Regions from separate parts of the Homo sapiens genome. Here regions 2, 3, 4 and 5 are each linked to region 1. The links come from fine-mapping of genetic effects on gene expression. A gene starts in region 1. Each other region holds a variant in brackets. All regions are shown on one strand. Distances are from middle to middle.

Region 1 (6,421 bases):
TGTCGGGAGCAGATCGGGTAATAAAATGTATATTGAGAATAAGATGGCCTTTTGACCTTTTAGGGTCTAGGGCTGTAAAGCGTCTCAGGGTTGCTGCCGAACGAGCCATGAACTGGGCTGGGTTTTTATATTTGATGAAAAAGAGCCTAAACGCTATGTGATTTGGGATAATGAAAAAGGAGCATTAACCCTGACTATGCCTTTGGCTCCAGCCACCTTTTTAAGAGTAAACTGCTGGGCAGGTGGGGGAGGGCTAGTCACAGAATGAAACTATAAGTCGGACCAGGTGTGGGATGAAGGGAGGGGAGGCGCGGAGGCTGAGGAAGAATTGGGACCTAGCTTGGGCTGGCGCGGAGGGGAGAGGTCAGATGGGTCTGTAGAAGAGGAAGATTAGAAAGACTCAGCGCCGCTTGGGGTTGGGACTGAGGGGACAGGAGGGAGGGAAAGAAGGAAGATTTGGGACGAGTTGCACGGGGCACAGAGACTAGGAAGGGACTGATGTGTAAAAGAATGCCTGGACGTCAGGCACCTCAGACCATTTGCCCATTTTACGACAAGAATTATTTAGATCTTGTAGGATGGAAAAATTGAAAGCGCCGTTTTCCAGCTATTTGGAACTACTGTCGAGTTTGTATTGGGGTCAAGCGGCATTGCAGAAGAAAATAAGGCATTTAGGTTTTAGGTCAGGTGTGAGTTGAAGAGGTTTTAAGTTTTTGAGAACACAGGCTAAGGGAGAACAAGGAGGAATGGAAGGTGGAAGCCTACCCATAGTGAAGGAGGCAAGCCCAGAGAAAAGAGTAGAGACATGGAGAAGGGGTGGGGAGTTCTTGCCCTCCAGAAAAGCAGAGAAAGGGTTGGGGCACGGAAATAAGGGATTGGGGCACAGAGATAAGAGGTTGGGGTGCGGAAATAAGCGATTGGGAGGTTCTTGCCCCTAGGAAAGCGGGACTTGCCGCTAAGGGTGAAGGAGAAGGGGTTGAGGGGTACTTGCCCCTGCCCCAGGAAAGGCAGAGAAGGGGTAGAGACAAGGAGAGAAGGGGTTGGGGTACTTGCCCCTTCCCCAGAAAAGCAGGACTTGCCGCTAAGGGTGAAGGACCAAGGCAGGCGTCCCTGCGTGGTCTGACACCCTTGAAACGTGGGTGTATAATCACAGAGGCATCCCTGCAATGATTAAACACCAAGGGAAGGCTGCCTTCCCAGTCCGTGACCGGCGCCGGAGTTTTGGGTCCACGGATAAAACGTGTCTCTTTTGTCTCTACCAGAAAATGAAAGGAATTGAAATTAAGAGAAGGGAGAGATTGAAGTGTAGCGCCAAGATTGAAAGGAGAAAGAGGTTGAGGGATAGTGAGGCAAGTTGGAGAAGAGAGTAAAAAGAGGCCGCTTACTGGATTTGAAATTGGTGAGATGTTTCTTGGGCTGGTCGGTCCTGAGGTCGTAGGTGGATCTTTCTCACAGAGCAAAGAGCAGGAGGACAGGGGATTGATCTCCCAAGGGAGGTCCCCCAATCTGAGTCACGACACCAAATTTCATGCGCGTCCGTGTGAAGAGACCACCAAACAGGCTTTGTGTGAGCAACATGGCTGTTTATTTCACCTGGGTGCAGGTGGGCTGAGTCCAAACAGAGAGTCAGCAAAGAGTGGTGGATTATTATTAGTTCTTATAGGTTTTGAGATAGGCGGTGAAGTTAAGAGCAATGTTTTGTGGGCAGGGGTGGATCTCACAAAGTACATTCTCAAGGGTGGGGAGAATTACAAAGAACCTTCTTAAGGGTGGGGGAGATTACAAAGTACATTGATTAGTTAGGGTGGGGCGGGAACAAATCACAATGGTGGAATGTCATCAGTTAAGGCTATGTTTACTTCTTTTGTGGATCTTCAGTTACTTCAGACCATCTGGATGTATACGTGCAAGTCACAGGGGATGCGATGGCTTGGCTTGGGCTCAGAGGCCTGACACACACCATCTATTTAATTCTGTGACCTGCTCCAGACACAAGCACTCTGGGCCCCCATATTCTTTTTCTTGTTTTCCCTATCACCGACCTCTTCCAACACCCCAAATAATTTACTTAGGGATGGCCATGGTTTACCCTCTGTCTCCCACTTCTTCCCCGCAGGCCTTCAGCTCCCCCAGGTGAGGGAGACCTTTGCTTTGTTCACCGACATATCCCAAGCATTAGAACTGCGCCTGGCACCAGCAGGTGTTCAATTATTTATTTAATGGGTGACTTGGAGCAGAAACCGAAGTGCAGTGGACTGTTTTCCTGGGATCTGAGCTGATGATAAATGATAAATAAGTCTTGGGATTTTAGAAGGCAGGAATCACGAAAACCAACACCAATGAAATCCAAGTCTCCTCTGCTACTATCTGAAGTGGAACAGAACAGAAATAAGGTCTGTTTTCTTTCCGCTTCGCTGTTCTGTTTCTGTCCAAAACAACCGTCTCTCTGACACCTTCGAGGTGTCCCTTTGTCTCTTTGAGGTTCCCTCCGTGACACTGGCTACTTTGTAACTCTAACACTGTCAGCAATTAATTCCCAAAGGTGAGGTCCCCGTGGGAAGTGGGAAAACCCAGCGAATCACCAGGGACCCGCCTGATTCCGAAAAGGCTGGATGCTGGCTGGGAACCGGCCCCGCAGCTCCGGCGTCCCCGCCTGCCTGCGCGGCCTTCAGCTGGGGTTACGGAGGGCTCCCAGCGCCGATCCAAACCGCGTTCCAGGCGGGGTGGGCGGGCCCCTGGCCAGCGAGGCCGAAGCAAAACAACCCGCCCAGGCGTCCAGAGCGTATCCAACCCTGGAGAACCTGCCCCGGAACCAAGAGCCGCAGCCAGCTCAGGCCTCTCGAGTGGGGCCTTTCCAGCCCCTGCAACAGATCCCGGGATCTGTAGTTGGGCGGAGGGGCTCGTTATGGGAAAGGGGTGCGTGCGCGTTTGTGCTAAAACAAGAAAGGCAAGAATCTCCGAGAACAAAACTCTGGTCCTCGCCTGGCCGGGGACCGCAGAAGACAGGGGCGGCAGCGCCAAGGCGGGTCAGGGGCCGGTCCAGCCAAGTTTGCTCCGGCTTAGATAAACTTTCTGATGGCAGTTTTTCCTGGTTGCAGCCTGGGTTCCTTGTAACAGGGTAAGCGTAGCGGGTGGTTGTCAAGAGGGGCGGAGGCTGGCGGTTACAGGGAATGGAGGGATGGGCCGGACCTGGGGTCGCGCAGGCGCCTTGGTCGCTGCCTCCGATCCGATCACCCCCGCCCCATCTCCTCTGCGAGCTCAGGAAGGTGGCTGGGGGAGGGGGATGGCTCCCTACTGCCGAGGGACGGCCCGAGGCAAACACAAAGCCCTTCCCTCCCCTCCTCCTCTTTCCTCTCCTCTCCCCTCCCCTCCCCTCCTTTCTCCCCCTTCCTCCTCTTCCTCCTCCTCCTCTTGCTCCTCCCGGGCGGGGAAACCCAGCCCCGCGCTCGTCTTTGGGGCCACCGGTCGCCCCCGCCTCCGGGACCTGCGGGGAGGGCCCGCGAGAGGTAAGGGGCGGTGGCAGCGGAGACCCCACCCCCTGTGCCCGCACCTAGAGAGCCCGGAGAGGCTCCGGGCACGGGCGGGGCTCTCTGGGGTTCCAGACGTGGGTGCTGCTGTGCGCACTCTCTCCCTACTCCGGAGGGGACTTGAGGAAGACAGCCAGAGCGCGTCCTCGGGGATCGTGGGGAACGGAAGGGGGAAGGGGGATCAGGGAGTGGGGACAAGGGGCAGAGTGACATTCCGGAGCGCGAGGTGGCCGCTGGTCCCGGCAGGGTCACCGGGTGTCCTCAGCTGACCTGTGCGGGGCTGGGGTGAGGGACAGCTGGAGGGTGCAGGCACTATGGCTCGAGGTGCGGAGGTGCGGGTGTGCGTGCGTGTGCACCGGACGGAGTTTGGTAGGGACCTTTGAGGAGTTCTACCTGCAGGGCTGCCTGTGGGGTGTCAAGTGCTCCCTGCGCCTGAGCGCGCGGGTCAGACCCGGTGTCGCACAGCTTTGATCCCCAGCGCGGACCCCACTGGTGAGTCCAGCCAGTGTGCAGGGCAGATGCTCCGACCGGAGATTTCCTCCCCCGGGTGGAAAAGCAGGAGGGTTGTTGTGTCCGGGCAGGGGGCACTTGGGCTGTCGCGGTGATTGATGGCTGCGCAGCGGGCGGAGGAGGAGCCCCGGATTCCTGCCGGGAAGGGACGGGGCCACTTTCCCACTTTGAGGCCTCCCCGCCCCCTTCTGGGCTTGGCCTCCACCCTTGGCCTGGGCTCCCACCAGCTCGGCGTCCACCCACCGGCGGTGGCGCGCCCCTCGACCGCGCGGGGACAGCAGGATTTGCAGAAGTTCAGCTTGAAAGCCTATGATATGTTGCCAAGAAATACAGGGCAAGATCGGTCCCCTGGGCCCTGAGAGGCGCCTGTCTTCTCAGAGCTCTTAAATCCCTGGGGCTTTCCTAATTCCGCAGTGTAGCGGCACTTCCTTGCGCGGTTTTGGGCACATTGGGGTTTCTTAGGAACACGCTGTCATCGGTAAGGAAACATCAGAGTACTCTTCGACCAAAAGGACTGTAAATACTGAAGCAAAAAGAAACACTTGCTGGGAGTGCAAAGGGCTTACTGGGAAAAAAGAAACACACAGGGCAGCACTCCATCATTAAGATAAATAGTATTTTAATACAATCTTTTTAACAAAACCAAATTGAATGTAAAAAATTCATGATAAGCAAAAATCAACATTTTAAATACAGGTGGGTGTTGTTAGAACCCTGCTTCATAGGCCGGGTGCAGTGGCTTATGCCTGTAATCCCAGCACTTAGGGAGGCCAAGGCAGGCAGATCACTTGAGGTCAGGAGTTCAAGACCAGCCTGGCCAACAGGGTGAAACCCCATCTCTACTAAAAATACAAAAATTAGCTGGGCCTGAAGGCATGTGCCTGTGGTCCCAGCTACTCGGGAGGCTGAGGTGGGAGAATCACTTGAACCTGGGGGCAGAGGTTGCAGTAAGCCGACATTGTGCCACTCCACTCAGCCTGGGTGACAGAGTGAAACTCTGTCTAAAAAAAAAGAACCCTGCTTCATTGTTCAATGGGAACAGTCATATCCAGTCTCCCTCCCCCACCTCCCCATTTGTTTGTTCCCTTGCCTGGTGGTTTGAGAGTTGACAGTGGCATGCAACAGATTGAGCAACTCTGGCTTCAGATGTAGTCACGTTCACTGAATGCAGAGCTTTTATTAACTTTTTACCTAATTCAAATGTAGGAGGATATTGTCATAAGTGGATATAGAGGTGCTAATTTTCCTTTTTGCCTCAGGTTCCAATATTGCCTCTGGAATACTCATGCACTCCCGTGCTTTGGCACCTCCAGAGAGAGCATCACAGGCTAGGGATGGGTAGGGTCCCGGGACAGTGAAGGGCCCTTGCTTTTGGAACTTGGGAAGAAGGCTGTTGACAGGAGCTTTTGGGTTTGGAGACTTGCTCTCAGTAGTTGGAGGCTGGAGACACGGGGAAAACCAACCTGCTATCAAGACCTTTGTCTGGAAACATTCTCCTGCAGACAGTTCATCAGAGCAGAGGAGGAAACTGAAATAGCCCACACTTGACCTCTAGTGTAGGGCAGGTGGGAGGGAGCTTGACTCCCAGGATGGCTATGGCGTGTGCTTATTTAAAGATAACTTCGCAGCAGCACTCTTATCCCCACCCAAGGTGTCCTGCCATACACCTTATCCAAAGTCAAGGGTCACTACCCACTTCAGGACTTCCACTTTCCAGAAAGAACCTCCTTGCTTAGCTAAACCCTCTTCCTCTGCTTGGAGGACACAGATGAATCAGGTATCACAGATGAAACACAGGGTATGCTACCCTGAGAGGTCCATGCTCGTGTGACCCATTAATGGGAGGCCCATTCTTCACATACTCTCTGTATTATAGTGCTTTGACCTTGTGCCCAATTCCCCTTGTATATCCAACCTACCTAATGAACCTTCAAGAATCCTAATAGTTTCAGCAAGAAAGATTTCCCCGACCCTGTCCTCCTTTCCCCAGTAAGACACCCCCTCACTGCCACCAGAATTCCTTGTGTGTGTGTATGTGTATGTATCTCTTAAAGCAATACAGTGGACCTCACTTGCCCACTGTCTGTAAGCTTCCCAGGGTCCAAAACCAGGCCATAGCCCTTAAGACCTACCACTCAAGGAGGGGGTGTTGAATGAATGAATGAACAAAAGTGTCCCTTTGTCAAGGCATTTTGAGAAGTTGCACAGCAAGAAGTATACCCTCAGGACTGTAATGCCTCTGAAGAAAGCAGGTAACATTTTTGTAGCACATTATAAAATGGATTTACAAATAGTATCTCAGTCGTTTCTCACAACAGTAGTATTCATTGCATTTTGTAGGTGAGGAAATGAAAGCCTAAAATTAGTCTGTCATTCTGCCGCAG
Region 2 (6,421 bases), 110 kb after region 1:
CCAATAATGTCATTTACAGCATTTTTTTTCAGTTAAGCATCCAACTGAGGATCATTTATTGAATTGAGTTGTCACTTCTGTTTAGAGACTCCTTCACTCTGAAATGTATCCTTAGCTTTTGTTGCCTTTTAAGACCTTTACGTTTTTAGAGCATGCAGGCCAATCATTTTTGTAGAGTGACCCTCAGTTTAGGTTTGTCTGATGCTCCTCACAGTAGATTCATGTTTTGCACCCGTGGCAGGAATGCCCCAGAGTGATGCGGTGGCCTCCTCAGTCCCAGATATCAGGAGGCACATGTGGCAGGTTTGTTTTATTCCTGGTGACACCAGCTCCAATAGTTTAGTTAAGATGGTGGTGTCCACCAAGTTTCTCTGCAGTGGGAGAATTTTAAGAGTTGTGGTTTGTCTAAAACTGAGAGATGAATCAAACTGGGAGGGTATTTAGACTTTGCTGGATGATGGCCCCAAAGCTGCTCTGAAAATGCTGTGCAGCTGGGTGAGCCGGCCTGCTCTCTGAACTGCAAGGCGTTTTCGTGGGACAAGAAAGGGCAGCATCAGCAGCCTGTTCTGTGGCTGGGGCTGCAAAAGCCATCAGTGTCGTCATGTCTGGCGTGGGGCATGCTGGTGCACAAAGAGCCGAACCAAGCTCCACAGCAGGAACTGACACCAAGCCAGGCCCCAAGGAGGCCTGTGAGTGTGGCCAGTTCCCTGCTTTGGTGACGTGATATTTATGCACCACGGCTCTTCTGAGGTTTCTCCAACTTTCCCATATAAAATGAAGATGGCCTTTCTTCTGAGCCAGGGCTGCCCAAGTGGCAGGCCACAAACCACGCATCGCCTGACCCAGGCTGGGGCAGCAGCGTCTCGGAGAAAAACAGGAAATTGGGACATACGCGCTTTCCACCGCCTGGCTACGTTATGAGTTTCTTAGTGGTTCCATGTGGCTTGAGTAACAGGGTAATTTTCCTTAATGCAGTAAAATACCCAAAGGAATGAAGATGTATTTTATTGGACAACGTTTTATTTTAGTAAATTATTTAGTGTCCAGCACTGTTTGAAGTACTCTTACAGATTCGCTCCTGAATTCATACCACACACTTTCACTGGGCCAGGAAACACGTGAAATGAGCAGGGCAGGTCTTAGGGTTTCATCCGGGTTTTATGATATGCTGGGCAGACCGTGAACATTCGACAACAGGCCGTGCTCCATCCTGTAGGGGCACACAGCCTATGTGAGATAAACAGACAGCTATAATCATGATGTTGTGGAGGCTGTCAGAGGGACCTTGGGGACCCAGAAAGGGGAAGGGCTGATAATGGGAATAGGTAATGAAGGGAAGCTAGCACAGAGATGATCTCTGACCTAAGTCTTGAGGGATAAAAAGGTGTTCACTAGCTGGGCATGCTGGCTCACACCTGTAATCCCAGCACTTTGAGAGGCCAAGGGGGGTGGATCACCTAAGGTCAGGAGTTCAAGACCAACCTGGCCAACATCGTGAAACCTTGTCTCTACTAAAAATACAAAAAGTTAGCTGGGTGTGGTGGCATGTGCCTCTAATTCCAGCTACTCGGGAGGCAGAGACAGGAGAATTGCTTGAACCGGGAGGTGGAGGTTGCAGTTGAGCCGAGATCACGCCACTGCACTCCAGCCTGGGTGACAGAGCAAGACTCCGTCTCAAAAAAAAAAAAAAAAAAAAAAAGTGTTCACCAGGTGGTGAGGCATTTTAAACAGAGACTGAGTGATGTATACAGAAACACGCAGGGTGGATGAGTCTGCGCTGGAGAGAGGGATTAGAAATGCAAATAAAGGTTTGAATGAAATTGATGAAGACCATATACGCTGTGGCAGAGTTTGGACTGATGTCAGGGCCACCTTGATTAGATTTTGTGTTTTAGGCAGGATTTCCCAAACTTGAGAGGAAGGGTTTCTGGGGAACAAGACCCTCACTATTCCTTCAGAGGTTACTGACTTTTGTGACATGGTGAGGTGGGGAGACGAAGCCACGTCATCACTGGCCACACTGAAGATGGGTTAGCACTGACCCCAGGGAAGGGCCAAACCAAGAGATAGAAAAAGCTGGGGAAATGGGGCCTGGTTGAATTGTGGAGCTGCTGGATTGGCCCATGCCACTCCATGAAGCCTCCACCCTCACCCTGGACTTTAGGCCATCCCTTAATCACTTTTACTGCTTAGAGATTTTTAAGCTTTTATTTTGTTCTTGGGTTTTTTTTTTTTTGAGAGACAGGGTCTCGCTCTGGGGCCCAAGCTGGAGTGCAGTGGTGCAATCACAGCTACTGCAGCCTCGAACTCCTAGACTCAAGTGATGCTCCCACCTCAGCCTCCCAAGTAGCTGGGAATACAGGTGTGCACCACCATGCCTGGCTAATTTTATTTATTTATTTATTTATTTATTTATTTATTTATTTATTGTAGAGAAGGGGGTTCGCTATGTTGCCCAGATGACAGTGCTGGACCCAAGCAATTCTCCCGCCTGGGCGTCCCAAAGCATTGGGATTACAGGCGTGAGCCACCTCACGGGGCCAAGTTATTTTGAAATAATGTCAAACTTCCAGAACCGTGGCAAGAATAGTTCTGAGGACTCCTCTGTACTATTTGCACAGGTTCACTGACCTGTGCCATTTTGCCCCATTTCCTGTATCAGCCTCTGAACCAGGTTAGAGTAGATTGTAGCCATCAGGCCCCTTCACCACTTACTGCACCAGTATATACTTCTGAAGAACATGGAGGTTCTCCTACATTCCCACAGTTCGATGACCCAAGAATGGAGCCTAATCATCATATGATACTTTGATCTAAACCCGAGATGCCAATTGTTATCATTTTTCCCAATAATGTCCTGTATAGCATGTTTCTTTCTCTAGTCCAGGAACTAGTCCAGATCATGTCTTTTGCAGGAAGGTGTCAGGCCTCTTTAATCTTTTTTAAGAGTGATTCCTCAGGCTAGGTGTAGTGGCTCAAGCCTGTAATCCCAACACTTTGGGAGGCCAAGGTGGGTGGATCATATAAGGCCAGGAGTTCAAAACCAGCCTGGCCAACATGGTGAAACCCCATCTCTACTAAAAATACAAAAATTAGCCAGGCACGATGGTGCACGTCTGTAATCCTAGCTACCCAGGAGGTTGAGGCACGAGAATCACTTGAACCCAGGAGGCAGAGGTTGCAGTGAGCCAAGATCGCACCACTGCACTCCAGCCTGGGCTATAGCATTAGACTCTTTCAAAAAAAAGAAAGAAAGAAAGAAAAAATGGTTCCTCAGCCTTTCTTTGTTTTTCACGACATTGATATTGATGTAGAATCTAGGCCAGTTCTATGATGGGATGTCCCTCAGTTGGAGTGGGTATGATGTTTCTTCTTGATGAGATTCCACATACACACTCTCTGTTG[T/G]AATATCCTCTAACTGATGCTGTGTTCTTCTAGGGCATCACGTCTGGAGGAACACAGCATCTGGCTGCCTTCGTTTGGGATGCTGACTTGGATCACCTGGACAAGGTGTTGCCTAATTTCTCCACTGTGTAGTTACTATCGGTCCCCTTGCAACTAACAAATACTGTTTAAGGAGATGTTATTATTTATCTTCAAGCCAATTTGAATGGGGTTTTCTGTTACTTCCAACATAAAAATTCCTAGCTGATTCAAGGGCTCATTTGTATTGCAGGATTGATTGCTGATTACCATGGAGAAGCAGGCAAGGGATTATGAAGAGAAAGACAGGAGGGATATCTTAAAAGCTTTCATTGTGGTCTGATGGGAGCAGATCTGGACCAAGGCACATGGGGATCCTAAGAGGACTAATTCATTTGGTGACACTTCTTTTTCTTTGAATTTATTTTGCAAGAGCTGAACAACAACAAAAATGATACTCTCGCCAGGTAGGTGGCTCACATCTGTAATCTTACTTTGGGAGGCCAAGACGGGGCTTCACTTTGAAGCCAGGAGTTTGAGACCACCCTGAGCAACAAATTGACACCCAGCTGAAGCTTCATCTCATGAGGTATCTTTGGGAGACAGTATATATCGTGCACCTCAGAGATGTCCTACTAAAATGAGGGAGCAGGGTTGAGGTGAGAAAAATCACTGTTGCTAGTAAATAGCAGTGCATCATGCACTATGTGGTTTCAGAATTTCCTCTTCCTCAGACTGCCAACTTAGGTCACACATTCTAGCTGTTCTAGGTTGGCTTGTTCTAGGTTTGGCTGGGAGTTAGGGCATGCATTGCCACGTGTCAAAATACTCAACAAAGATAGATCAGTGCTAGTGAGGATTGTTTCCTATCTCCACTTCTGTGGGGTCTCTACTCTGAAGGAGGTAGAACCAATGTACGCATCGCGGCTTCTCTAAGGAATCATAGGCAGGAACTCTGCCTAACAGGGACTATATTTCCAGTTAAAAATGCTGAAATGGATCCCCAGTTTATTTCAATGATGTTTATGAGGAGGACGCTAAGATTTAGGAATTGTGGACTCTTAAGTTATTTCACTGGTTCAATAATGGAGTTAGATCATTATGGGGGCAGTGCTCAGGGAAAAGCCCATGAACAGGGTGGGTGATATGGTTAGGCTTCGTGTCCCCACTCAAATCTCATCTTGAATTGTAATCCCCAGGTGTTGAAGGAGGGAGCTGGTGGGAGGTTATTGGATCATGGGGGCAGTTTCCCCCATGCCTAGTGATAGTAACTGAGTGCTCACGAGATCTGATGGTTTTATAAGAGTTCAGAAGTTCCTCCTTTTTCACTCGTCTCTCTCCTGCTGCCTTGTGAAGAAGGTGCTTGCTTCCCCTTCCACTATGATTGTAAGTTGCCTGAAACCTCCTCAGCCATGAGGAACTGTAAGTCAATTAAACCTCTTTCCTTTATAAATGACCCAGTTTCAGGAAGTTCTGTATAATAGTGTGAGAATGGACTAATACCATGGGCTTGAGCTAGTCTTTGAAGAATAGGCAGAATTTGGATATACGAAGTAGGGAAGGTGTGGGGGCACTGGTCCAAATGCAAAGGTGGGAGTGGGGATAAAATATGGATAAGATGCATGTGCGATTGTACCTCGCTCACTTCCTCCTACCATACACTCCTATGCACGTCTTACTGCAACTTTCTGCCTGGCCGTCTGAGGGTGCCATCAAGTTAATACGCCCAGGAGCAATTCTCCAACAGTGACCTACACAACCCAGCTTCCTTGACCTCAAGTGGGACACCCCTGAAGCACACTCACCCCACATCATCTGCACTCCCCTGCAGCATCATGCTCTGGTGGCCCCCAGCTATACATGTTCAGTCTTAAAGGATAAATATTCTAAAGGTAAAATCATGACATTAATAGAAAACTTTTTAAAAACTACATCAGAGTGAAATACTGGACATTGGAAACTACAAAATGTGGGACGCTGGGTAGGGAGTGAGGGTTGAAAAATTACCCATTGATTATGATGCTCACTATTCAGGTGATGGATATAGCAGAAGCCCAAACTTCACCACTACACAAAATATGCATGTAAGGTACCTGCACTTGTACTCTCTACATATATTTAATAAATAAATTAATTAAATGTTTTAAAAACTGCTTAAAATTTTTTAAACTCATTAGTGAATGAGGGAAATGGTAAAATGTCACAACTGATTTAAACATAGACTCAAATAGCACTTACATACAAATATATAACACACTTTTTCTTTTTTTAATGTTTTATTTTATTATTTTTATTTTTATTTTATTTTATTTTTGAGACAGAGTCTTGCTCTATCACCCAGGCTGGAGTGCAGTGGTGCAATCTCGGCTCACTGCAGCCTTGATCTCCTGGGCTCAGGTAATCCTCATGCCTCAGCCTCCCAAGTAGCTGGGACTACAGGCATGTGCCACCACTCTTGGCTAATTTTTTAAAGTTTTTTGTAGAGTTGGGGTCTCACTATGTTGCCAAGGCTGCTCTTGAACTCCGGGGTCAAGGGATCCTCCTGCTTCAGCCTGCCAATGTGCTGGAATTACAGGTGTGCACCACCATGTCCAACCATGTAACACACTTTTTCTGGAAAGGACCAGATAACATTTTAGGGTTTGCAGGCCACGTAGTCTCTGTTGCAACTACTCAGTTCTACCACTGTAGCCTGAAACAGCTATAGACTATATGTTAATAAAGGAGTGGTTGCTGGTGTTTCAATGAAACTTTATTCTCAAAAGCACATGGTAGGTGCATTTGGCCTAGAGACCTTCTTTGCAGACCCCTGATACAGGCAATTAAGAACCCTGAAATTGCTTTACAAGTGGATGCAAAACTGGTCAATATCCACAGGGCACTAATCAAGTGCATCTCCATAGAACCGAATTTGCATCTCTGTGGGCAACATTCATCTGCATTATTATGAGTTTTCTACAATTTACAGAATTGAAAATACAGTTGATCCTCATTATTT
Region 3 (6,421 bases), 230 kb after region 1:
CCTTGGCAATTGGTCCTAGGTTTCAACCCTCCTAAGAGATTTCCACAGCCCCTTTTATACCCAAGGGTGGAATTCCCCTCGAAGGCCAGCACCCCTCCCTGGCAGCAAGGATGAGTTGCTCAAGGGAGCCTGTCCAACTTGCTAGTAACGACTTTTCTGATGTCATCATTCCCCAGAAGCAGCTGCGAGCCTTTTGGGGATGATTTGTATTAACACTCTGGCCCAGAGGTGACCGGGCTCACTCTGATGATAACAGTTGCCCGTGGGGTTCAAGGTGAAAATCTCATCCAGGTCTTTAGTTGTTTTCTGTTTTTCTGATTCATATACATTTATTGAGGTTTAACTTACATCCATAAAGTGTGTAAATCTTAAGTACTCGGCTCAACAGAATTTTACACACATGCACACCCATGTAGACACAGTCCAGATCCAGATCCAGAACATCTCTAATCCCTGGTGTCCTGTCCTGGCCCAGATCCTCCCCAAGGGGGACTGCCATCATGACTTCTGTCCCACAGGTTAGTTTTGCCTGCTTTTGAACTTCATATAAACGAAATGCTGTAGGAGATACTCTTGTGTCTGGGTTCTTTCACACAGCCTTGCGTTCATGAGATGCATCCATGTTGTTCTGGAGCAGTAATGTGAGCTTTTTCATTGAATAAATACATTCCATTGTCTGAATTTCATTGTAGTATTCCATTGAATGAATATATCCAATGTATTCATTTCTGTCCAAATGGGCCTTTGGGTTATTTCCAGCTTGGGGCTATTATAAATAACATTACTATGGACATTCATTTACGTTTCTAATTAATGACTGACATGGCCTTTGTCCTCCCGTGGTGACCCTATTTTAACCAAGTAGTGGTCACTTACAACCATGAATGTAGCTTTCAGAATGTTTGGATGAGAGGAATAAACTGGCGAGTATTTATAAAGTGACTTGAACTTTACAATTAAAAGATTATTTACTTTGAAAAGCTGTATAAATGGTTATTTAAAATAGTTGTGTGGCTTCTATCAAGCCATTAGTCATCTCTGAGCCTCAGTTTCCCCATCTGTTAAACGGACATAATATTAGTATTGTGCAAAAATAATAGAATTATTGCAAGGATTAGATGATAGTGAAGTAAAGCACTTAGATGGAGGCTGGCCCATCTGAGCACTCAATATTAATTTCTGTTATTAATTTTTTATCATAATGATGATATAAGGTAAAGTCAAAGATGCTATGAAGTTGCACGAGCTTATTAACACAAAGCAACCAATGTAAACCAAGTAATTTGTTTTAATGCCAGATGTGAATAAGTTGTTCTGCTTTTTTTCCTACTTTATAACCTCCTTCGCATCAACCTTGATTTCTATAGTTATATAAACCTTTGTATTTAAACAAAGAGATCTCCTGGATAAGTTGGAAGAGGAGAAAGAAAAAAACAACTTGGGCTGGGGAATCTGATGATTGTGGGGTCAGCGTTAACTTTTGGCCTCAGTTTTAACCTTGGGGGACTGTTTTCATTGTTTGTACCTCTGCGTTAGATTTATCTTTGTCCCTGGCCTTCTAATAATAGGTAATCATTTGAATTCAATAAGATCTGATCCAGCGTCAGGAATTCCAAAGGCCAGAGAGACAACTCAACTATTTCTTTTGCTTTTTCTTTTGAGACAGAGTCTCATTCTGTCACTCAGGCTGGAGTGCAGTGGCAGGATCTCGGCTCACTGCAAGCTTTGCCTCCAGGGTTCAAGAGATTCTCATGCCCCAGCCTCCAGAGTAGTTGGTATTACAGGTGTGCGCCACAACGCCAAGCTAATTTTTTGTATTTTTGGTAGTGATGGGATTTCGCTGTGTTGGCCAGGCTGGTCTTGAACCCCTGGCCTCAAGTGATCTGCCCACCCCAGCCTCCCAAAGTGCTGGGATTACAGTCATGAGCCGCCATGCCTGGCCTAACTTAACTATTTCTGATCTTATATGTAAGTGGACCCATTGGCTTCCCAAATGGAATAAAATTAAGGTGTCATCATTTTATGCGTAGATGCTGCAGCAGAACCCAAGGGGCTCAGATGAGAATGTGCAAACGTGTGAGGTCAAAAAGCTGCTATTGACAAAGCAGAGGAGTTATTATTATATAAATAGCCTTCAGCCCGCATCTCTGGATTTATGGTACTGGTCATTTTAGTATTAGCCAAGAAAGCTACTCCACTGGGAAACCATTCAATGAAGGAGGGAAGAATAACGCCTCCCACACCCAAAGGTGTTTCCTAACTCGGAACAGAAACACATTTCACACATTTTTAACTTTTAATTTTGAAATCATTTCAGATTTCCAGGAAAGTTGCAAAAATATCATAAAGAAATATCTACCCTTCACTCAGATTCCCAAATGTTAGCACTTCGCCACATCTGCCTCATTCTTCTTTCTCTCTCTTCACACACACACACACACACGCGTGCACACACACAGATACATGCACGTACACATACATGCACACAAATACGTGCACACACACTGTCTCTCATTTTTTCTGAACCATTTAAGTTGCAGACATTATATCCCTTTACCCCTAAATACTTCAATGCATATTTCCTAAAAACAAGGCTATTCTGTTTAATAACTACAGTATAATTATCAGACCTAGAAAATTAACACTGATGCCTTGTTAGCACTATTACCTTATCTGCAGGCTGTATTCGATGCCCCACTAATGTCCTTTATAGCAAATGAAGAATTTTTTAGTCCAGAATCTGATCCAAGATCACATACTATATTTAGGTGGATCTATTTCCTCAGAAAACATTCTTTTTTTTTTTTTTTTTTTGAGATGGAGTATCACTCTGTCACCCAGGTTGGAGTGCAGTGGCACAATCTTGGCTCACTGCAACCTCTGCCTCTTGGGTTCAAACAATTCTCCTGCCTCAGCCTCCCCAGTAGCTGGGACTACAAGCGTGCACCACCATGCCCAGCTAATTTTTTTGTATTTTTAGTAGAGATGGGGTTTCACTATGTTGATCAGGCTGGTCTCCAACTCTTGACCTCAAATGATCTGCCTGCCTCAGCCTCCCAAAGTGCTGGGATTACAGATGTGAGCTACCACGCCTGGCCCTCAGAAAATATTCTAAGAGATGTTGAATGCTCATTATTAGAAAATCCTTCCTTTAAGATAACATCTTTGCTCTCCTGTTAATTGGATGACCAGTTGAAGGACTAGGTCAAAAGAATGTCTTCTAGCATATTTGCCTGTACTTACAGGGATAGGGCATGAAAGTAATTAAAACAAATATATTTCATTGTATTGATTATATGCAAGTTAGACATCATTGGGGAAGATTCGGTCTTCCTGGCTTTTCAGAGAAAAATGTTAACATGTGAGTTATGGCGCTGCTTGGTGTTGTCTGTTGGTTGGATGTTAAGGTGTACAATTTGTGTGCCTGCAACCAATGCATAGAGTTGCAGATGTCCATTGTAAGAAAGCAGATGTTGCATTTCTTCTTTCTTCAGACAATAGTCATAGTAGCTACACTTTCTTTGGCAGATGTGGTGCTGGAAAAAGCCATGCACAAGTGCATCTTGAAGCCCCTCAAGGGGCACGTGGAGGCCATGCTGAAGGACTTTCACATGGCCGATGGCTCATGGAAGCAACTCAAGGAGAACCTGCAGCTTGTGCGGCAGAGGAATCCGCAGGAGCTGGGGGTCTTCGCCCCGACCCCTGATTTTGTGGATGTGGAGAAAATCAAAGTCAAGTTCATGACCATGCAGAAGATGTATTCGCCGGAAAAGAAGGTCATGCTGCTGCTGCGGGTCTGCAAGCTCATTTACACGGTCATGGAGAACAACTCAGGTGAGGCCGCTGGAAGCCCAGGCTTCGTGCC[G/A]CTTCCCTTCCGGGCCGGGGACAGGCCTCTCTCCTGTCAGGCTTTCTGATTCCCAATTTCTCCTCCCTTTGGTCTCTTGATTTCACCAAGTGGCTTACAGAACTACAAGTGATTCTCTGATATCCGGCACATTAGTCACATGCAACAGATTAAAATGTAAGCAGATGAGGGCAACAAGATTTTTGTACCAGGCCGATTTAATTAAAGATTTAGTTCAGAGTATGGTTACAAATTCAGTCTCTGGAGTCTGAGTTCAAATCTTCCCTCCGAGAAGAAGAAAATTAACTGAGGGACTTTGGCCCCCTTAATCAACCTTGCACGCTGTAGTTTTCTGCGTCTTTAGCCGGATGTCACCCTTTCTTTCATGAGGTGGGGATTAGCTGAGACAGCCCACACATAGCCCCAAGTGCAATGGAAATGTCAGCGATTATCATTACAACATTTTGGCCAATGAGGGTTTGTGTCAATGACCTATAGTATGTGAAAGAAACTCTGAACATTCAGTTATAATGAGGCCTCATTAGAGCCGCTTCATTGGCTAGCCCTTCTTTGCTACAAGCTGAAGCAATATAATTGAAATTCACCGAAGAGTTACAATCTTGGAAAGCCAGCCCTCAGATTTAGCCTTGTTGTTTCCTGTAGATGCAGGGGTAACCATGAATCCTGGATAGTAATGGAGCCCTGCATTGTCCCAGGTCTTCAGTAAGCTTATTGTAATTCTGAAGACGATTACGAACTTTTCTTCTGAGTGAAATTGCTTAATGGAGAAGCAGCAGAGAGAAAACACAGGCTGTATTAACCACTGCTTGAGTAGACAGGAATGTGTGTGCACTTTGGGAATTGTTGAGTGAAGAAGTTAAAATATGAGCTCCTGGGCGTGGTAATGATAGCAAGTGAACATCACCTCACAAGTTTGCAAGCATATTTCACATATAGGAAACATATTTTCTATAGTTCACAGTTATTTATAAAAATTCCCCAAATAATATCTGAATATCTGAATTCCCCAAATAATTCAGAAGGATTATGCTCTTCTGAAGCACAGTTCCTCAACACACACACTAAAGACATTAATGTAGACAGGATAATTCTTCTTTTGGGGGCTGCCCTGCTTCCTGTAGGAAGTTTAGCAGCATTCCAGATGTCATCTGCATCCCCACCCTCCAGTTATGTCAATGAAAAATGTCTTCAGACAGTGCCAAATGTCCCCTGGGGGACAAAATTATCTCCAGTTGAGAACCACTGATGTAAAGAAAACTAGAAGTAAACACTAACATTTTTTGCCATATATTTCCATTAATCAATGTGTATATTCAACATGTACTGAATTGGCACGTTTAAAGAAATTAACTGTGTGCTCACATTAAATACAGAGCAAAGTTAGCTTATTCCTGGTTTGAGTTTGACCTTGTCATTATGTTTGTAAATAATGTGCACAGCAAGAAAGAGGAAGTAAGACACAAAGAATTAGCATAAGTAAATATTTTGTAAGCATTTTATAATCTTGTTTGCTGAAAGTTAAAATATTTTAACGAGTATTCTGTTCTATCACATAATTTTATACAAATTATAAAAGTAGGGAGAAAATCTGTAATGTGTTCATTGGTTCATAGACATTCATTCTGAAACTGTAAGGGCTGGTCTCTAACATTAGCAGCTGGGAGGGTCAGAGGCTACATAGGATTCCAGAAACACTCACCTCTGTTTATAAATAGCACAGTTCCCCCCAGAGTGACTCCTTGCTGTCTAATAAAAGCAGCAAGAAGGATGTGAAAGAAAGAAAAGTTGGTAAAAATATTCCATCTCCTTCTCTTCCTGCTCTCAGGGAGGATGTATGGCGCTGATGACTTCTTGCCAGTCCTGACCTATGTCATAGCCCAGTGTGACATGCTTGAATTGGACACTGAAATCGAGTACATGATGGAGCTCCTAGACCCATCGCTGTTACATGGAGAAGGTAACTGCTTTTGAGAAAAGTTGAAGGAACTGGGTGCTATTTTTTTCATTTTTTTATAATTGAGACGAAATTCATGTCACATAACATTAATCATTTTACAGTGAATAATTCAGTGGCATTTAGTATATTCACAATGTCATGCATTCTCCACCTTTATTTAGTGTCAAACTATTTTCCTCACCCTAAAATAAAATTCTGCACCCATGAAGCAGTTACTTGGGTGCTTTTTTGACATCTTAAGTGTTAACTGAATTTTTTATTAATTTAAAAGAGTGTACTAACCTTTTTCTGATTGCAAAAGTAATACACACTCGTGGTAGAAAATTTGGAAAAGTCAGGAAAAACACAAAGAAAAAATATAACCCCATCTTAACTATACTTCACTAAGATTGCTTAATGGCAATAAAAAAAATACATTCAGTAGAATAAATGCCATTTTTTTTGGAAGAAATGGTTTCTTTGGCTCCAAGAGGAAATTATAAACTTTTGTTGAGGATATTTCCATTGCCAGGAAAATAACCTGCTCTTATATTAGTGAAATGGATAAAAGCTTGGCTTTGTTTTTATTTTTTAAAATTTCGTTTTCAAGGTGAAAACAG
Region 4 (6,421 bases), 240 kb after region 1:
ATCCTGACCCTCCATACGGCCTTTCCTGAATACTTATGTTCATATTGATTTCTCCTGAAATTCTCCATGTAGCATCTGTATTCTGGATTACTGAGTTTCACACACAGTCACATGCTGATTTGTTTGTGGGGCGAATATTTGGTAAAGATCAACAATTCAAAACTCTTAACTAGGGTGATTATACTGTAGGTGGCAAGGTCTGGAAAACCCTTCAGATCACTCTATACACAAAAAGCTTGACATGTGATCAATGGAAAGTGCATGGCTCAGGGTGACCCAGATTATGCCGCGGGAAAAAATAACCTCAAGTCTTCATCTGCAACCTGAAAACAAGAAGGGTATTTTTCTTTCTCGTGTTCATGTCCAGCACGAGTTTGCAGGGCGTGTGGCTCCTGATCCACATGGAGGGGACAGTTGCCATCTTGCATATTGCCACTTATTGACCAGAGAGAGGCTTCTGCAGGGTCTCACATGAATAAAGCTAAATACTTTGGCCCTAAAGGTGACACTTCTGCACAAAACTCATTTCGCCAAACTAACTTCTGGTCCCTGCAGGAATAAATTGCCAGTGTCTGTTTTTTTTTTAAAAAAAAAAAAAAAAACAAAACACATTCATAAACTTCTGGAGAGTGGGGACTCAGATTCTATTTCTTACAAACCTACTTTCTTCTCTGTAGCTGTGGCTCACAGTAGAGATTCAATGAGTATTTTGACAAAGAATGTCTCTAAATCTAAAATATGCTGTGCCCAATTAGGGAATTTTTAATAAACATTCAGGGCGACCCCTAGTGGCTCTTCAGCGCAGAGACCATAAGTTCCTCCCCAGGCACCTAATTATATGTTAGGACAAAAACTATGAAGGAATACATACACATCTTACAGTGTCGTCAGCCCTTTTTACACTCCTCAAGAACATAAGAGATCATTCCTAAATACACCATCACAGGAACATCACTTTCCTGTAAATTATTTTATCCTAAATGCCAGATGTTATGTTAGTCCCAAAGGAAGGGGGGGGTAAGAAAGGGAATCAAGGGAGAGAAATTATTTTTGAAGTGTCCACATTTTTGCGAACAGTTCTTTCAAAGTGTATAGTTTACTTAAGATTTAGAAAATACTCATTGCGTTTTTTCCTTTTTACTTTTTTTTAAACCAAATTCTTGTTTATCAGAGATAGAAAATATCAATTTCTAAAAGAAAAAGCCAAGAGCAAGTGTTGCCACGAGTCTGGACTGATGGAGGGGATACTGGCCTTGGATCACCTCACACGCCTGACTTTCCCCCCACCTCCCCGTCAGGCCTTAATACCCCAACTACTCCTGGCAAACATTTTTCATAATTGCACTTTAATAATTTCGGCTGGGCATGGTGGTCATGCCTGTAATCCCAGCACTTTGAGAGGCCGAGACAGGTGGATCAGTTGAGGCCAAGGTTCAAGACCAGCCTGGCCAATATGGTGAAACCCCATCTCTACTAAAAATACAAAAATTAGCCAGGCGTGGTGGTGCATGCCTTTAATCCGAGCCACTCGGGAGGCTGAGGTGGGAGCGTCGCTTGAACCTGGGAGGCGGAGGTTGCAGTGAGCTGAGATTGTGCCACTGCACTCCAGCCTGGGTGACAAAGCAAGACGCCGTCTCAAAAACAAACAAACAAAAAAACAAACAAACAAAAAAAACACTTTAGTGGCTTGGTCAGTCTCACGCACTAGAATGGAAATCCCATCATTGAAAAACAGGAACCTTGTCAGCCTGGCTTGTCTGTGCCCCCTTGGCCCCTCCCAGGCCTGGGTCGCTCCAGAAATCTCTGTGGGATGGCTGTGTGAAGGGATGGATGGAGGAGTGAGTGCCATGCTCTTGGGTGTGTGCTTCTGTGATCCCACAAGGAAATGCATGTTGAAGAAATACTAAAAATACAAAACATGCCTTCTAACGCTGGCATCCCCTGTTATCACCCGTGAGCGGAGGTTGGCACTGGGAGGACCCACTCTTTCTGCTCTTTTCAGGAGGCTATTACTTGACAAGCGCATATGGAGCACTTTCTCTGATAAAGAATTTCCAAGAAGAACAAGCAGCGCGACTGCTCAGCTCAGAAACCAGAGACACCCTGAGGCAGTGGCACAAACGGAGAACCACCAACCGGACCATCCCCTCTGTGGACGACTTCCAGGTGTGCAGCTGGCCACCCCTTTGCTTCCTTCGTCCTCCAGGAATGCGGAGCTGGCTCACCCAGCACATCCCAGCTCAGAGGTCCCCACTGTGTTGAATTATTTGGCAGGAAAGGGATATCTCAAACCACCCTCTGGCCTTGTTACACTGATCTGTTTTCTTTACATTTATATACGCATGGGATACTTGGCCCAAGTTTTGCTGTCTTTAAGAAAACCAAGTTGAATTAAGGCAGAATCTCTGCCCAATCAAGCAGACGATAAGTCAAAAAGGAGGAGGAAGCACTTGGCACAGACGTTGGAGATTTTGTTTCATCAGGAAACAGCCGCTGTGTTACGCGATGCAATTGGCCTAGTTTCTCTTTGGGAAGAGGGAGAGGAACAGCGATGTCTCCTTCCCTTTTCTCTCGCCCACTCTCCAAAACAGAAGACCCCAGAATCTCAGCAGCAGCAGCAACAGCTATGGCAGCCGTCCACGGCGCAGAGTGACCAGGCGAGCATCTGAGCGAGTCCTGCTCAGGTTCCCTGGCCAGGGCTTTTCCTGACCGTGAGCTGCTGCTTGGGAATGTGGGACTCCCAGTGAGCTTGTTTCTTAGAATGGACAGGTGGGTTAGGGCTATAGAAATCTTTACCCAAGGCCAGGCATCAGGGCTCACGCCTGTAATCCCAGCACTTTGGGAGGCCAAGGTGGGCAGATCACCTGAGGTCAGGAATTCGAGACCAGCCTGGCCAACACGGTGAAACCCTGTCTCTACTAAAAATACAAAAATTAGCTGGGTGTAGTGGCAGGCACCTGTAATCCCAGCTACTTGGGAGGCTGAGGCAGGAGAATCGCTTGAACCCAGGAGATGGAGGTTGCAGTGAGCCGAGATCACGCCACTGCACTCCAGCCTGGACAACAGAGTGAGACTTAGTCTCAAAAAAGAAACAAAGAAATCCTTACCCAACACAATTCCTGATTTGCTCATTGTCTATGAAATAATGAGTGAGTTGGCAAATGTCTGCAAATAATATTTTGAAGGTTTTAAATTAAATGATAAAACCTTCCTGTGGTTTGTTTCTATGTTCCCCATGATGAGTTTCCAAGCAGGGATGTGGAAAGCAAGACAGATTTGTCTACACATCCAGATTCACCTGCTTTTTTTTTTTTCTTAAGACAGAGTCTCGCTCTGTCACCCAGGCTGGAGTGCAGTGGTGGCACGATCTCTGCTCACTGCAACCTCCACCTCCCAGGTTCAAACGATTCTCCTGCCTCAGCCTCCGGAGTAGCTGGGACTACAGGTGCTCACCACCACACCTGGCTAATTTATTTTGTATTTTTAGTAGAGATGGGATTTCACCGTGGTGGCCAGGCTGGACTCAAACTCCTGGCCTCAACTGATCCACCCGCCTCAGCTTCCCAAAGTGCTGGGATTACAGGCGTGAGCCACTGCGCCTGGCCATTTTTTTTTTTTATAAGAGCTCTGAAAATAGAGGGTCAGATGAGGTGGCTCATGCCTGTAATCCCAGCACCTTAGAGGCTAAGGCAGGAAGATCGCTTGAGGCCAGGAGTTGGAGACCAGCCTTGGCAACAAAGTGAGACTCCATCTCGACAAAACAACCACAACAAAAAATTTTCAAGTTAGGTAGGCGTAGTGGTGCACACCTGTAGTCCCAGCTACTCAGGAGGCTAAAGTGGGAGGATCCGTTGAGCCCAGGAGTT[T/G]GAGGCTACAGTGAGCCATGATCACACCACTGCACTCCAGCCTGGGCAGCAGAATGAGACCCTGTATCAAAAACAAACAAACAAAAAGGCAAGCCCATCTTTGAAAGCCAAGATCAGCTCATTCTTCTCCATGATTGCAGTATGCTCAGAAATTCCTTCTGGAGCGCATAAACCTAAAGAGTGAGAATACACGCACTGCACTCTCCCCACCCTGTTGCACTAAGAAGGTCCCTGTGCCACTCAGTGCCTGCAGACCCCTGGGGTGCCATCATATAGCCATCCAGGGAGGGGCTGCCTAGGGCAGAACAGAGGAAGTGAAAAAAGTTCATTGTTCCTTTCCCCACCTGCCAACACACCCTCCTCCACCTCTTCACCTGGAGACCCTCAGACACCATAGAGCTGCCTTCTTCTGCAGCCGTCCCCTCCTGCCCTCATTGACCCTGCTCACCTTGGAGGTGCATGCCTTCTCAGAGTGTAACCGAAGAAGGAAATGTTCAGCACTCGGCTCAGGGGTCAAAGCAAAACCTCAGACCCAAAGCTCCATCTGGAACCCCTAAATCAGAGGCCACAGACACAGAGGTCTTCTCACATGGGAAGAGGTAGTACGTCTTGGTGGTAAAGGCGGTGGGGCTGCATCTGCCACGTCCTAGCTGTGTGGCTTTGGGCAAGTTACGTAGCCTCTCTGTGCCTCAGTTTCTGCACTAGTCAAACAGGGATTATGTAGACCCTGTCTCTTAAAAAAAAAGGTTCAAAGAGTGTCACTGTCAATCTGGGCACCTCCCACTAGCTCACCTCTCCTGCAAAGTCACTGGGCTAGCAAAAGTCCCCACTGGAAGCAGATATGAAACATATCTTACATGTGCAGAGCTCACTGTCCTTCCCAAGAGCTTTCCCTTCTGTTATCCCAGGAAACCCTCGTGGTGACCTTGCAGGCACCTGGGCAGAGAGCCCTCCTTCCCTTCACTGCTGAGCAGGGTTGCCAGATTTAGCAGAAAAAAATCTATTTGTTTTCTAGCTGAAACTCAAATTTAACTGGCTGTTCTAGATTTCATCTGATAACTCCACTGTTAAGGAAACAGAAGCAAAGTTATCTGGGGTCACAAAATCTAGGAGAGCCTGATGTGAGTTTAAGATTCTTTATGCCTGGTCTGGGCTTTGTATCTTGTAAGGCCACAGGTTTACATGTTTCATGATAGCATGTACCTGGCATGATTGCAGCACCTGAGCCTGCAAACGTCTTTGTTTAATTCCCTGCAGCACCACCTTGCATGTAATCAGCTCCATCTGCAAAGTATTTGGCAAAATCAACATTCTTCTCCTTCTGACTTTTTCCACATTGTGCCCAGAGCCACTAGGAGCCTTGTATTAGATTGAACTACATGAAATCACCATTTGGGGGAGATAAAAAATAGTCAAAAGTCAGCGCATTTTGTGTGTGTGTGATTCAACCTAAATGATTGCCCTTGCTTAGGATTTATTTAAAAAGTTTGTCAAAAGTGAACACAAGCCAGGTACAGTGGCATGCACCTGTACACCTAGCTACTCAGGAGGCTGAGGCAGAAGGATCACTTGAGCCCAGCGGTATGAGTCCAGCCTGGAGAATATAGTGAGATCTCATCTCTTAAAATGAAAAGAAGAAAACAAAAAGTGAGCACAGTACGTGCTTTTGTGTCTAGATATTTTAAATCTCTTTCTGCTGACTTCCTTCATACTCTTGTGCTATTTGGTTTAGTTTTCAAGCTGGGAATAAACCCAGCATTGGATGTGGTTCACACTCTTAAGCAGGGGTTTCTTAACCAGACCTTATGAGGGAAATGGAAAGATCAGAACCAGGGCTGCATGGACTTCCTGCTTCTTACAGTTGCAATGAATCATGTAGTCATCTTCGCCACTGTCCAAAGTCAGATCAGCCTCTTTCCTTGCCATTCGAAGCCTCGTGGCCTGACATCGGACATTATGACAGGAAAGGGCCTGGAAATGGCTTACAGTTACCCCCTCCCCTGGTCCCCCATCATGCTCACTATCTAGTTTTCTCTTCTGACTGTCTCAACATTCCTCTTCCACCTGCAGAATTACCTCCGAGTTGCATTTCAGGAGGTCAACAGTGGTTGCACAGGAAAGACCCTCCTTGTGAGACCTTACATCACCACTGAGGATGTGTGTCAGATCTGCGCTGAGAAGTTCAAGGTGGGGGACCCTGAGGAGTACAGCCTCTTTCTCTTCGTTGACGAGACATGGCAGCAGCTGGCAGAGGACACTTACCCTCAAAAAATCAAGGCGGAGCTGCACAGCCGACCACAGCCCCACATCTTCCACTTTGTCTACAAACGCATCAAGAACGATCCTTATGGCATCATTTTCCAGAACGGGGAAGAAGACCTCACCACCTCCTAGAAGACAGGCGGGACTTCCCAGTGGTGCATCCAAAGGGGAGCTGGAAGCCTTGCCTTCCCGCTTCTACATGCTTGAGCTTGAAAAGCAGTCACCTCCTCGGGGACCCCTCAGTGTAGTGACTAAGCCATCCACAGGCCAACTCGGCCAAGGGCAACTTTAGC
Region 5 (6,421 bases), 34 kb after region 1:
AATTATAAAATTCAAAGCCATATTTAAGAACAACAGCAAATCTGTAGCTCTTACATTACCAATTATTAAGACATGCTATAAAGCTACATAATGAAGACTGTGGCATCAGAACAAGGATAGACAAATAGGTAAATGGAACAGAAGTGAGAGTTCAGAGACAGAGCTACAAGATAATGCAGTATCTTGGCTTACAACAAAGGCTACACTGCAATTAAGCGGGTGTGGAGGCGGGAGAAGAGTCTTTTCCACAGATGGCGCTAGTCAGTTGATATTCCTGAGGAAAAAAATAAAACTTGATTCCTATGCCATACACAAAAATGATTTTATGATGGATCATAGGCTTAAATGTTAAAACTAAAACAATTAACCTTCTAGAAAAAATACAAGAGAAATATCTTCGTGAACTTGGGATATGCGAAGATTTTTTAAAATAATACTTTTAACTTAAGATGTGTGCACTTTACTGTATGTTAATTATACTTCAATAGAATTTCCTCTCCCTTGTCTTTTGTTATGTGACACTCTTAATTTTCTTCCTAGTCCTTTATGATTTCTCTATCTTGCCTAGTTTCTTTTATTTTGTACAAGATTCTTTCTGTGGTTTACTTACTTTCTCTTGCTGCAGTTGGTATCTTGGGCATTTTACCTATTTGTAGCTTTAGCTGCCTGCTCCCTGTAGGTGGCTCCTAATCTTATAACTGTTGTTCCAATCTGCCTCCTCCCATGGGGTCGTAGGACTCTCAGGGACATCCAACTATTGCCTGGTTCCCTGCCATGTGCTTCAGTCCCCTCTATGCATCCCCATGGGTTGTTGTTCAGTCTGTGCTTTAATATTTTTGATGAGGAGAAAATCACCCAGTCCCAAAGTGCTAGCCAGAGATTCCTCACCTCGAGTTGCAATTTGTCTTCCTCTAATTTCTCTCCTTTGGTTCTCCTCTTATCTGTCACTGAGCAAGTCTAATTCCACTCACATGACAGAGGCTTCCCTGCTTTTTCTTTTCTCCAAGTCAATCATCCAAGACTCCTTCAAACATCTTTTCCTAAACATGGTCACATATTTCATTTCTAGCTACTTCTTGACGGGCCCTAATTTTATCACGTTTTTATCAAAATGTGGCACCCAGAATTGAACAGAAGGCTTGAAGGTGATCTGGCCTCTATAGACCATCATTTCCCTCGTTGCAGATGAGTTGTTTTCTGAATATAGACTTATTCATTTGTCTCTAGTAATTCTTCAACTGCCTTTTGGATTTCTCAATCTGGATCTCCCTAGAAACCTCAATTTATTCAAAAATGAAATAATCATACACCCACCGACACCAGCAACTGCCCCAGTCTTACAAGGCTAGCAAGTCAGGTTGCCTGCTTCCCACTCAGATAACTTGATCTCTAGCCTTATTAATTAGGGGGCAGCTATTACTCCACTTGGCTTTCATTCTCTATTTGTGTATGTGGGTTTAGGGAAGGGGACTTTTTATCCTGATACAGAATATCCATTTATTCCTGTTAATTTTTCAACTAATGTTGGATTTTTCAAGTTGGGCTTAACTTATCTAAATCTAGGATAAGCTGGGCTCTGTGGCTTGCACTTGTAGTCCTATCTACTCTGGAGGCTGAGGTAGGAGGATGACATGAGTCCAGGAGGAGTTCAAGGCCAGCCTGGGCAACATAGGGTTACCCCAGCAGTAAAAAAATTAATAAAAATAGAATAATCATCCACTTACCCCAACCAATTCCCCCTCCCAACTTCCTTATCCTTTGGGTGGCCTTATCTGGCCCTTCTTCATGTCTGTCACCTTCTTTCTTAGTTCAAGCCCATATTCCTTAGTTCAGGTCTCTCTTACTTGCCCTAAATGGTCCTTCCAGCCTCCAGCACTTCACCCCAACTCTGAGATGGTCACTAGCTCCCATAGGTTTGCATTGTAAAATGGAAACCCTTCCCTTTGTCCAGACCATGACCTGGCCTGCCTTTCCATGTGAATCCTCAATATGCCCCAAGGGCTAAGCAGTGTTCTAATGGTTGTAGCTTGGCACAGCTGCTTTAAACCAAGTGGTTCTGTCTAAACTAAAATGCCTTTCCCCATACTCCCCAGCCAAAACTACACTCATCTTCTGCATCTCTTTCAGATGGCCCACAAAGAAAAACAGGACTTCATGTGTGTTCCTGTAATGTATAGCTTAGACCTTGAACAAAATCAGCCAGTGGCTTTGAAATTGAATAAACAAATGAATTACTTGTCCCATTTCTTTAATTGGAAAAATAGAATTAGAAATGATTGGAAAATTATCACAGATATATATGTATTTCTAAAACTACTGGTCATTTCTAAAGATAAGTTTTCCAAAAAAGTGAATGAATTTATTTGAGAAAATGACTAAAATACAATTCTGTGGATGTTATTTAATTTCCTCTTACATATTTAAGAAGACACCAAAGAATATAATTTGGGAGTTACAGTGCTAAGGCTTAGATAATTTAAGGTCAACAAAATTCTTAGCTTGATCTTTGAAAGAATACCTGATCCACCAAAGAGGAGATGTGCCCCCTGCCTCAGATATTATTATGTGGAAGTGAGGAAAGCTTCATAAAATTACAGTAACATGACTTCTCTAGGGAAAACAGAGATCATCAGTTGAGGAAAGTTAACTAAGAAGTTCATTTTAAAGTAATCTAAATTTTCTTCATTACACAAATGTCTTTGGAAAGGGAATGAAAAATATAACAAATATAAATCCTTATTTTTCATAGGAACTTTAATTTCTTTTTCCAAAGATAAATTATTCTTTGAAATAAGTATTCCTAGAACTGTTAACAGGAGGCATTTTGAGGAAATGCTCATATTCTCATGCAAACTCAGCACTGGGGTTGTCTTAGTGCAACTAGCAAGGCTTTCTTTGCCTGTATCGTGTCCACTTCAGGCAACAGGTAAGGAATAAAGTCATCTAAACTTACCTAAAATGTTCATGTTTTAGAATTACCCATAATTATTATCTTCATTCCTTTAATAATGTTGAAAAGGAAATGTGTATTTTTTCCTTCCCTCCCCCATCCAGCTTTTTCTCAGGTTGTTTCCATGGTTGGGGGAAGAGGAAGGACAAGTGGGACTCCTTCCAGGGACATGGCCAGAGCAG[T/C]TGACAAGGCCAAGTGGACAGTATGAGCTGAAAGAAAGAAATTCTTCTTTGTGGACAGAGGAACTGCCTGTGAAGGTCTTCAGAGGCAAATTCTACCACAGCGGAAATTCCACTTCCAGCTGGCGTGGTTTGCCTTGGCTTTTTAGGGTCTACCTGTCTGTAATGGTCACCCTCATCAATGCACTTAATTCCCATTTTTAACAGCAAAAATATACATTTCTAAAAGATGGCGAAAGGAAGATATTCAAGTATATAACATGCTTTACCTTAACCAAATATTGACTGAGGCCTCATAGTGTCATTTCTCGTGAACATTTAAACAAGAGCAGAATCCACCCGGGTCATCAGAGGGTATCATGTGCCTGAAACAAAATGTCAAAGCAGTGGTAATAGGATGTAATGAGTGATGTGTGTTGTGAGAAAGACACTTGAACTAAGATCTGGAAAGTGAGGGAAGCAAAGCTCACAGGAGCAAGGGGTGCCTGCCATTGAGGACTTAGCGCACACATGGGGAGGTGAGGCAAGAGCCACCAGAGGGGCTAAAGGGGGGACAGTGATGACAAACCAAAGATGATTTGGTGATTGACAAGCCAAAGAAGACTCAGGTTTGCCACTGACCAGCACATAGCGTTAAGCAGGTTACCTCACCTCTTCCAGCTACAAAATGAGCATATTCTATTACCCCTTCATTGGCTGTCGGGGTGATTTGAGGGAGGAGGGGGCTCAGCATAGTGCCTGGCATGGAATCACTTCTGAAAACCTGCTAGCAATTGCCTATTATGTTTTGAGGTGGATCTTAAAAGTTTGGCAGGATGGTAACAGGAGATGGCTGCGGAGGGCAAGGTATTTTAGGCTAAGCAGCCACTGTGTGTGTGTGTGTGTGTGTGTGTGTGTGTCTGGTGTGTTCAGAATATAGCATTGTGTTTGTGTGTATGTGTTCAGAATACAGCAAATACAGCAGCCCAGCCAAGGGGTATTGATGACCTGTAAGGCTTTGGGAATTATTCCATCAGGCAGCACTGTCCAATAGAAATATAACATGAGTTGCATATGTAATTTAAAATTTTTTGTAGTCACATTTTAGAAAGTCAAAAGCAATAGGTAAAATTAATTTTAATAAGATATCGTATTTAATTCAATATTTCAACATATGATCAATATGAAAATTTATTACTGAAGCATTTAAAATTTTTTTGTATTAAGTCTTCAAAACCTGGAGCATATTTTCTACTTACAAAGCATTCCTATTCAGACTTGCCACATTTCAGGTGCTCGATTGCCACACAGGGCCCGTGGCTGCTATATTGGATGGCTCAGCCACAGAGGGGCTTTCCTGTGATAATAGCATGGTTTTCCTTGAATGTTAGTCTTTCTCTCTCTCGTACCCCAGAGAGGGAGATGGCAATGCCTTTCTCTAGTACAATTAATTTAAAGAAAAAAAAGGAAAGGAAAAAGGGAGGGAGAAAAGAAGTACTCCAGGGCACTATCTTCACAGCTGGCCTAATCCTGAGGTTTTCACAAATGAAAACTCAAAGGGTTTTGGGAGATGCTGGAACATACTTTGACCCTTTTAGATTATACTAGCAGAGATGCTCTAGAAATCTTGCACAAAGAAACTTATTTTACTTTGAGTAACTCCAAATTTTCCAGGTTATTAGGATTACAGAACAATGTTTTTAACACTTTCTAAGGTTGACAATTCATCGTTTTGTAGGAAAAGCTGTGGGGAAAGACTGGAGAAGCCTAGATTTGGGTTCCCCATGGTAGCTACTGACGCATTGCTGGGGTTGCTAGATAGGGAAGTACAGGGAATTGGAATGAGAAAGCTCATAGCTGGGTGAGTAAATTCTTAGCCTGAGCCAACACCAGAGATGTGGTCCAGTCATGAAGATAACACAGGCAGGATTCAGTACCTAACAAAAATCAATCAAATTGGTCACTGAATCTTTTCATCTGTGAAGCTTAGATACACTAAGGCAGGATGAACTGAACCAATTTTACTTCCTTTAAGAGAAGATCAGGGAAAATAATATACCCAAGATCACAAGGATCCAAAGAATAATGCATCTATAGTCAACATGTACAGAATAGAAAAGAAAAGAAAGGCTTTAGTGAGAGATGAACTCCACCAGTAGCAGATTTCAAAATGGCACCCAGCAAGTGGCCTGCATGTGCAAATCTTCAAAAAAAGATTCAGTGGGCTGGGTGCAGTAGCTCACGTCTGTAATCCCAGCACTTTGGGAGGCCACGGCGGGCAGATCACCTGAGGTCAAGAGTTCGAGCCCAGCCTGGCCAACATGGCGAAACCCCATCTCTACTAAAAATACAAAAATTAGCCAGGTGAGGTGGCGGGAGGCGGAGGCAGGAGAATCACTTGAACCCAGGAGGTGGAGGTTGCCTTGAGCCAAAATTGCACCACTGCACTCCAGCCTAAGCAACAGGGTGAGACCCTGTATCCAAAAAAAAAAAAAAAAAAAAAAAAGATACAGTGATACTAGGTAATGATGAATAACGTTCATATGAACCTTCTAGATGATGCTATCAAAATATGTGGAAAAATAAGCAACTACTTCAGTTTCTAGAGTTGTGACTACTGGATTAAGAAAAATTAAATCTAGTTGTATTTCATTTTCTTCAACCTGTTATTACCTTGTAGGTTTTAATTTATAAATTTCTTTATAAGGACTTCAGGGTTTCTATGAGAACAGCGACTCAGGATTTCTCACAACGCCTCGCACCTACTAGATGCTTACTCCGCATTTGGTTAATTCATGAATAATTCTGATCAAGACAATCCCCTTCATAAATTTGGCTTTCCTCCATAGAAAAATTAAATTAAAATTTAAGACAATTTAGAATCCTTAAAGGTAGAAACACTTCAGTTGTCTTTAGAGAAACTCTAGTTTGTTGAGAAACCAATGTAAGTTTTAAAAGAATTTGCATTTCTCTTAGGAACACAACCCTGTTAAAGTTCAATAACCCATTTAAAACACAGGCACTTTGCTGAGGAAATGCTCTTGTGTACACATGCGGTGACACTGGCCCAGGAAGGTCAGGACAGCATCCCAAGTTGTTCCAGCTGCTTAACCCGGACTCGCAGGGAAGTCTCAGTCAGTCTGTTTCTGTTTTTAATATGTCATTATATTTCTTCTTACGGAAAAGCACCATTTGTAAGTGGCTATAGTGTTTTTGTTTCTGTAGTAATATCTTAGTTTCTGTAAGATGTCGTAGCATATGTCATACATATTCAGTGCAAATTCAGTTTTGTGTCTATTTTTTAGATTGTTTG

What was found.
Region 2: its variant is fine-mapped to the expression of RIN2 in whole blood (TOPMed, PIP 0.97). The same link has a PIP of 0.9 or more in thyroid.
Region 3: its variant is fine-mapped to the expression of RIN2 in whole blood (TOPMed, PIP above 0.99).
Region 4: its variant is fine-mapped to the expression of RIN2 in tibial artery (GTEx, PIP above 0.99). The same link has a PIP of 0.9 or more in blood mononuclear cells, breast, esophagus mucosa, esophagus muscle, fibroblasts and gastroesophageal junction.
Region 5: its variant is fine-mapped to the expression of RIN2 in whole blood (TOPMed, PIP above 0.99).

Annotation. Positions count from the first base shown.
Region 1 is chr20:19,754,822-19,761,242 of GRCh38, forward strand. RIN2 (Ras and Rab interactor 2) reads left to right here and starts at 3,437. Exons shown (of 13, transcript NM_018993.4): 1 at 3,437-3,506. RefSeq lists an enhancer at 3,826-4,400.
Region 2 is chr20:19,867,406-19,873,826 of GRCh38, forward strand. The region is part of intron 2 of RIN2 (Ras and Rab interactor 2); the gene reads left to right. Among named protein-coding and RNA genes, the nearest start is that of RIN2, 110 kb to the left of the region's middle. The variant T/G (reference allele first, on the strand shown) is at 3,406.
Region 3 is chr20:19,986,478-19,992,898 of GRCh38, forward strand. RIN2 (Ras and Rab interactor 2) reads left to right here. Exons shown (of 13, transcript NM_018993.4): 10 at 3,529-3,834; 11 at 5,691-5,822. Among named protein-coding and RNA genes, the nearest start is that of NAA20, 28 kb to the right of the region's middle. The variant G/A (reference allele first, on the strand shown) is at 3,866.
Region 4 is chr20:19,994,677-20,001,097 of GRCh38, forward strand. RIN2 (Ras and Rab interactor 2) reads left to right here. Exons shown (of 13, transcript NM_018993.4): 12 at 2,003-2,166; 13 at 5,937-6,421. The coding sequence ends at 6,260. Among named protein-coding and RNA genes, the nearest start is that of NAA20, 19 kb to the right of the region's middle. The variant T/G (reference allele first, on the strand shown) is at 3,867.
Region 5 is chr20:19,788,943-19,795,363 of GRCh38, forward strand. The region is part of intron 1 of RIN2 (Ras and Rab interactor 2); the gene reads left to right. Among named protein-coding and RNA genes, the nearest start is that of RIN2, 34 kb to the left of the region's middle. The variant T/C (reference allele first, on the strand shown) is at 3,133.